Homo sapiens: one gene and its partner. The protein of the gene in region 2 interacts with the protein of the main gene of each other region in a pairwise test. Each region holds a gene or a part of one and is shown on either strand. Other genes may lie near its edges. The genes, in order: TBCD and DEXI.

Region 1 (3,806 bases), on a different chromosome or scaffold from region 2:
AAGACCCCATCTCTCAAAAAAAAAGATTTCCTTCCTAAATTGGTAGTGTTATTCATTACCATATTTACGGAATCAGTCATTAAATATGTTCATTTATATGACTGTCCTCTGACATTTATGAGGAATAAGTGCCTACAAACCGCAAGGGCCCAAATTCATTAACACTTCCCTGAAGCTCAGTGATACCACGCCTTCCGGAGAAATCCTAACCTCAAACAGAGGAGCTACAGAGGCCTGCGTGTCCTTGGCAGCTCACCCGCAGTGTCCTCTCGCTGGCCAAGGACTTTCCCGCCAGACAACAGAAATGCGCCTCGCCACTACGAACCCCAAGCCCCACCCTGAGACGGCTGTGAGTACTTCCATAGTCAAAACTGCCAACAGTGAGCCTCTGGGCCAGCACACAGACACCCGCAAGCTTGTAAGAAAAGCAGACTATGAGCACAGACACCCGCAAGCTTGTAAGAAAAGCAGACTATGAGCAGACACCCGCAAGCTTGTAAGAAAAGCAGACTATGAGCACAGACACCCGCAAGCTTGTAAGAAAAGCAGACTATGAGCACAGACACCCGCAAGCTTGTAAGAAAAGCAGACTATGAGCACAGACACCCGCAAGCTTGTAAGAAAAGCAGACTATGAGCACAGACACCCGCAAGCTTGTAAGAAAAGCAGACTATGAGCAGACACCCGCAAGCTTGTAAGAAAAGCAGACTATGAGCACAGACACCCGCAAGCTTGTAAGAAAAGCAGACTATGAGCAGACACCCGCAAGCTTGTAAGAAAAGCAGACTATGAGCAGACACCCGCAAGCTTGTAAGAAAAGCAGACTATGAGCACAGACACCCGCAAGCTTGTAAGAAAAGCAGACTATGAGCACAGACACCCGCAAGCTTGTAAGAAAAGCAGACTATGAGCACAGACACCCGCAAGCTTGTAAGAAAAGCAGACTATGAGCACAGACACCCGCAAGCTTGTAAGAAAAGCAGACTATGAGCACAGACACCCGCAAGCTTGTAAGAAAAGCAGACTATGAGCACAGACACCCGCAAGCTTGTAAGAAAAGCAGACTATGAGCACAGACACCCGCAAGCTTGTAAGAAAAGCAGACTATGAGACCCCCGCCTAGACCTACTTGCTCAAAATCTATAGCACAGCAAAATTCCCAGGAAATTCATCTGCACATTAAAGTGTGAGAAGCACTTCCATTTCCACAGAGTCTCGCTCTGTCACTCAGGCTGGAGTGCAACAGCATGATCTCGGCTCACTGCAACCTCTGCCTCTCAGGTTCAAGCCATTCTCCCGCCTCAGCCTCCCAAGCAGCTGGGATTACAGTCATGTGCCACCAAGCCCAGCTAATTTTTGTATTTTTAGTAGAGACGGGGTTTCACCATGTTGGCCAGGCTCATCTCGAACTCCTGACCACAGGTGATCCACCTGCCTCAGCCTCCCAAAGTGCTGGGATTACAGGCATGAGCCACCGCACCCGGCCTGCTTTCTCCTTGTAAGAAGTTTTTCTGATTTAGTCTCATCTCCACCCCATTCCCTTCCTAGCTACACAGTGCTTCAATCTATTCAAATGCAAGATGCTGAATATCCTGACACTGTTTCAGCCAAAGAGCCCACATCACTAAATTCTGATCCCCAACATACAGTAAAAAGGGACAGAATTAAACCCACAACTTGTGTCTAAGAACTATCTTTCTTGAGAAATAACATTTTGGAGGGTAACCTCTGGACCAAGTATATTACAAAAGTATCTGTCAACTCTGAAGTGCTATGGAAATGTTACCTTGGTGATGATGTAAAGAAATTTAAAAGCCAGATGTACAAGGGAAGCTGGAGATGTCTGATCTTGCACTATGTCCAACAACAAGTTCATCATCCATTCTAGGGAAAAACATAGGAAACATTTACTGTAAAAGTGAACATCAACATGACATTGAGGCCGGCCAGGTGTGGTGGCTCATGCCTGTTTTCCCAGCACTTTGGGAGACCAAGGTGGGAGGATCATTTGAAGCCAGAATTTCAAGGCGGCAATGAGCTATGATCCTACTATTGCACTCCAGCCTGGGCAACAGAGCAAAACCCGTCTCTTTTTTTTCTTTTTTTTTGAGACAGAGTCTTGCTCTGTCCCCCAGGCTGGAGTGCAGTGGCGTGATCTCAGCTCACTGCAACCTCCACCTCCCGGGTTCAGGCTATTCTCCTCCCTCAGATTCCCAAGTAGCTGGAATTACAGGCACGCGTCACCACGCCTGGCTAATTTTTGTATTTTTAGTAGAGACGGGGTTTCACCATGTTGGCCAGGCTGGTCTCGAACTCCTGACCTCAGGTGATCCACCCACCTCGGCCTCCCAAAGTGATGGGATTACAGGTGTGAGCCCACCGCACCTGGCCCAAAACCCTGTCTCTTAAAAAACAAAAACAAACAAAAAGACATAGCTAGGTTAAACGTAAGCAAAAGGAAAAAGATATTCCAACCAATCACAAATCATAAAAGAGCTGGAGTGGCTCTGTTAATATCAGACAAAGTAAATGTCAGAACAAGCATTACCATCAGAGATAAACAGAATGTTTCATGATAATAAAAGGATCAATTCATCATGAAGACTTAACAATTCTGTAAGTATACACACCAACCTACAGAGCTTCAAAATAAGCACAGAAGAAGCTGAGAGAAATGAAAGGAGACACGGTTGAAAACTTCGACACTCCTGTTTCAGGAACTGATAGAACAAGTAAGAGAAAATCGCTGAAACCTAAACAGCACTATCACCCACCTTACTTACGTGACATTTAGAGAACAATCTACCCAACAACAGAACAGACATTTTTCTCAAGTGCACGCGGAATGTTCAACAAAACAGACCATACGCTGGGCTGCAAGTCTTCATACATGGAAAACAACTGCAACTGGCATCCGGGAAACGCAGAGAAGGACACAACGAGATACACTCCCTGAAATCAGAGAGACTGGCAACGCTGAGTGCTGAAGAGAACCCAGAGCAGCTGGAATCCTCATACCTTGTTGGTAGAAATGGTCAACAGTACAATCTTCATGGCATCAGTATGGCAGGTGATGAGTCACACACTTTTTTTTTTTTTGGAGACAGAGTCTCACTCTGTGACCCAGGCTGGAGTGCAGTGGTGTCATCTCAGCTTACTGCAACCTCTGCCTCCCACATTCAAGTAATTCTCGTGCCTCAGCCTCCTGAGTAGCTGGGACTACAGGCACCTGCCACCACACCCGGCTAATTTTTTGTATTTTAGTAGAGATGGGGTTTTACCATGTTGCCCAGGCTGGTCTTGAGCTCCTGAGCTCAGGCAATCCACCTGCCTCAGTCTCCCAAAGTGCTAGAATTACAGGTAGGAGCCACCGCGCCTGGCCAAGTCATACACTTTCTACAAGTAAGACACTTTCTGCTACTCAGCAATTCCACACATGCGTATTTTCCCAAGAGAAAATAAAACCTCTGTCTACCTAAAAACTTGTACATAAACATTTTCACAGTAGCATTACTTTTTTTTTTTTTTTTTTTGAGACGGAGTCTCGCTCTATCACCCAGGCTGGAGTGCAGTGGCAAGATCTCGGCTCACTGCAACCTCCACCTCCCGGGTTCAAGCAATTTTCCTGCCTCAGCCTCCCAAGTAGCTGGGACTACATGCGCACACCGCCACACTGGGCTAATTTTTTGTATTTTTAGTAGAGATGGGGTTTCACCGTGTTAGCCAGGATAGTCTCAATCTCCTGACCTCATGATCTGCCCACCTCAGCCTCCCAAAAAGTAGCATTATTAATAACAGCCAAAAAC
Region 2 (4,525 bases):
TTGGCACCACTGATTCCCTCAGCCTGGACTGCTTTTCTCCAGATCCTTCTATCAAATTAAGGCTCAGCTCAAAAGCATCATCTCCTTAGAGAGGCTTTCTCTGACCCCTCAGCTAAAGCAGCCCACCATCTCTATCCTACCGTTTCACTTCTGTTTCACTCCATGTCTACACCTACAGAGACCGTCTACTAGAGGCCAGGCACAGTTTTAAGTGTTGAGGACATGGCAGTGAACACAACAGGGAAGCTCATGTCCTTCTTGCCTGCCTTCATAGTTCCGAAAAAATCTGATTCTCTTGTTTGGGTTCCTACTAGTCTTCCTCACCAAGTGCCAAAGGGCCAAGGCTTGGTCTGTCTTGTTCACTGTGTTCAATCACCAGGCACTGTACTGAACCAACAAGCATTCATTCTGTAAAAGAACGGACGGATGGATGGCAGGCAGGCAGGCAGGCTGGGGAGGTGTGCAGAGCACCTGGCACACACTCCCCCTGGCACTTGGTTCTCGCTAAGATGTTACTGAGCTCAACTGAAGCTTTTTCTTCAAAGAAATCTCACTGTGAACCCATTAGGAGAGCCCTCTGCCGCCAGCTATGCTGTCAGTAGGTCCTACCCCACCCTGTACCACCATCTGCAACAGACTCAATGTTTGTGTCTCCTCAAACTTCATATGTTGAAACTCTGATCCCAAATGATGGTATTGCGGGGTGCGGCCTTAGGGAGGTGATTAGGTCACGAAGGCAGAGCCTTCATGGGTGGGATTAATGCCCTTATAAGAACAGTAAGAGATAAATGTTTAAGTCCCCCAGCCTATGGTGTTCTGTTATAGCAGACTGAACTAAGACACCCTCTGCCTGTGGTTGTCTTGGCAAAGCCAGGTAATGCAGGAGAGGGGTGGACTCAGCCTGCTTGCGGTGAATGGCATTAGTGTCCATTTTCCTAAAGGAGCCCTTGCCCACCATATCTCAGCATCCCCTCTTCATTGCCACTTAGACCCTGTGCCCAGTGACACTCCAGTACTGTCCAGTCTCAGGGGCTGAGCCAAGGCGTTCCTGCCTGCCCTGTGACCCTCACCAGACCTGGCAGCTGCCTGACAGCTTGTCTGGCTCACGTGTTCTCTCTAATTGAGTCTAGCTGCCTCTCTTCCTTGTGACTATGACCAAGTCTTACTCCTTCCTGGACCTTCATTTCCCTACCTCTCACATACACAGTGGGCTGGATGCTGGATGCAAAGCTCCCTCGTCACAGCCCCAAAGACAGGACTTGACCATCTCAGTGCAATGACCCTGTGGTGCCTTCTCCCGAGGACCTAAGAGCCCCCTGAGCGCTTGCAAACACTGCAGACAAAGCGAGCCCTGGCACCAGCTCCCTGCCTGCCTGTTCTGTGAAGGGAGCCTACAAAACTGGCAGCCCCTGCAGTTCTGAGCTGCAGAACTGATGAGCTGGGGCACCCTGAAACCTGACTCCAAAATAGCAGCAAACCCAAGGCCAAAAGGAAGTACGGGCTTCTTTGCTTGCGATTTCTCCTCTCACAGCTTTGGCCTAGAGCCCCTGCACTTAATCCCCACCCAGCTACCCCAAGGGCCACAGTACAAAGGTGATTCGTGCCTGGCTCCCTGTGTCTTCTGACACCCCTAAATCTTTATCCTTCTAGGACAAGCGAGAATCCCCCAAAAGCCAAGGTCATCATCAAGCCAGGATGAGGACTGGAGGAGGAGCTGACAGCTCTGCCTCAAATGGATTTGGGAGCGAAGGCTTTTTCCATAAGCTTTGGGGGTAAGTCACAGAGCTACCCCAAATGTAACTTAGTCTCGGGGTCTCCTTCCTTTTCACCAGCTGTCCCCTTTGCTGGAGGAAGCTTTCCAGCCCAAACGAAGGGCTTAAGAGGAGTCTGGCCATTCCTGGCATCCAGTTAGACCTGGAGGAGGTGAACGGAGGAGAAGCCTGAGGGAGGGGTGTGTATCCGGCCTGGGAATTCCTCCCTCTCCCTTGCTAGCGCCCCAACCCGCCCTCATCCTGTTCAGAGAGGGCACTTACAGGCCTCGGAGGCAGGGGAGGGTCTCCTCCTGGGGAACCATCCCCGTCCAGATGGTGCCCCCAACCAGCTGCGGCGGCATGATCTGGGCGGCTGGTCCAGGGCATGGGTTGCGGATCGTGTAGGGAAGAGGGGAACAGCAGTCGAGACCCTACTCCAAGTACGCATCAAAGACGTCGAGCTCCGAGTCAGCATCGTAAAGGCCCGAGCCGGGGTCGGAGAGCACGCCGAGGTCCACGAGCGCCTGGTCCATGTCCTCGGGCAGGAAGACGAGGCCCACGTTGAGGACGATGTACTCCATGAGGAAGGCGTAGTACAGGATCAGCACATTGACGAAGAACAGGCCCACGTAGAACATAGAGGGCAGCAGCGGCGGCGGCACGTAGGGGACCAGGGGGCCCAGTGCGTCCAGGTGGGCCGCGACCCGGGCGCCGAGCATGCAGCGGGTGGCAAGGGCGGCGGCCCGGCGATCCCGGCGAACTCAGCCGCTGCGGCGCCCGGGCGGCCGGCGAGGGCACAGCGCAGCCATCCAGGGGTACCCTGGAGCCCGACAGAAGCAGGGCCGGGCTCCAGATGTCCCCTGGCAATTGCGCCCCGACCCCCGAAATGCGCCGGGCGGGTCACCGCACCCCGAGATGTGCCCCCAAGGATCTCTCGACCGCCCGGGCGGCGAGGCGGGCCCCCCTGAAGTGGCCCGCGGCTGCCCGGCTCCCTCGTGGCGCCTCCCTGGCGCTCGCAGGGCCTCGCAGAGCCGGTGGGGATCCCACCGCGGCTCAGTGTCTAGGGCCGGTCCCGGCAGCCTTCTCTCCCGCCCCGCCCCGCAGGTCCTCGCGCACCCCCCGCGCCCCCGCAGGCCCAGCACCCATGGCTGCGGCCGCCGCGTAGCCCTCCCGGTGGCGCTCGGAGCTCCGCCTCCCGAGGGGCCCCGAGCTCATTGGCAGGCCGCCCCCTGCACGCGCTAATTGGCCGGCTCAACGCCCGCGCTGATTGGCTCCGGCCGCCAGGGGGCGGGTACCGCTTCGCTCCGCCCCTCGGGGCCCTAGCGTCTGAGTTGCTTTCCTGGTTCGGGTCTGCCCTCAGATCTCAAATCGAATTCGCTCTGCGTATCGAATAGGGGGAGGTAAAAGAGACTGAACACAGTTCAAACCTAGACATAATGCTAAGGCCGCAAAAGCCGAAGGAAACCCGGGCTACCGCTGCACCTTGCTGCATGCCTCTTTGGGACTCCGTTTCTCCTTTAAAAGGAGGCGGGGTCGGGGAGGGGCGACGGACGGTTGCCCTGGAAATTTTGGACATTCCCAAAGCGCCAATTTTCATGGTGGAGATCCACCAGTGTCCCCTTCGCTTCTCCAAACTCTGGTTGCTGGAAGGTCCGCCCACTACGGAACCTGCATCCTAGAGTTAAGGAACACCTGAATAAAGAGATTCCGAGGTAGTTCAGATCTTCAACCATAAGGATGCTTTTTGTTTCTTTTTACTTTGTGAATCATGTTTAAAAGCAATAATACACATGGCTAAACATTCAAACAACCGTGAAGTACACAGAAAAGTGAGTCTCTCCCACCCACTGGTTCCCCTGCTCTTGGGTAACCGTTGCATGTCTTTCAGGAAAACATGATCTCGCCCAAAGAGCCTTCCAAAGCAGTTCAAGAAACCTTTAAATCTCAGGCCACACTGAGCTGAGTATTTTACATGCATCGCTTAATCGGAGGTATACAAGGCAGTGTAGTATGTATGTGCGTACTTTTTACAGATGAAAAATACGAGCCCAGGGATCCTACATTTCTGAGCCTGGGTGTGTTTCTTTGGAGGCCAGATCCTGTTCTTTTTTGCTCCATGACTTTGTCTTGCCCCACTCTATATGAATTACAGGACAAACCATTAACTCTCCACTCTTATCCATTTCTCCAACTGCTGAAGGTGAAACAAACCTTTACTCATTCATGCACTCTACCAATATTTGTTAAACACCTGCTATGTGCCAAACCTTGTGCTAGGCACTGGGGAGAACATTGGCCTCTGGCCCAGTTCTTTCTTGAGCAGAGTTAATGGGACACAGTGGACCTTTAATAAGGTTGATATGTAGAAGTGACTGAATGAATGAATGGATGGTAAACTTGAGAAGTCTTGCCCACACTGAACTTACCACTTCTAATCCAGGGTAGAAGTTAGATATATTCTGGCTCATGCAGAAAGTTGGGTGTTTCCTTTTTCATTTTAACGTGGTACTTTGGGAAATAGCATGGATTCTGGCTGAAGACCAGAGGAATCCTCTGGAAGTACAAAATGTTCAGTTTGGTGCATTGTTGCATCCAGCCTTTTCCAACACACACACACACACACACACACACACACACACACACACACACACACACACACACTTAATTGAAGTGGAAAAAGAAAAAGGCTGTCAGGACAAATAAGGTTGTTATCTAGTGCCGTTTTGGTTTATAAAGGGAATGAAAAATAAGGGTGCGTGCGTGGTTATGAACCC

The links.
Region 1: the proteins of DEXI (region 2) and TBCD interact in a two-hybrid assay, tested with the Homo sapiens proteins (one large-scale study listed by IntAct).

The regions. Positions count from the first base shown.
Region 1 is NC_000017.11:82,762,043-82,765,848, reverse strand, and holds part of TBCD (tubulin-specific chaperone D), read right to left. Parts: intron 1,885-3,806; coding exon 1,787-1,884; intron 1-1,786.
Region 2 is NC_000016.10:10,939,536-10,944,060, forward strand, and holds the start of DEXI (dexamethasone-induced protein), read right to left. Parts: upstream 2,934-4,525; 5' UTR 2,471-2,933; coding exon 2,183-2,470; 3' UTR 2,034-2,182; exon of another isoform or gene 1,651-2,033; intron 1-1,650.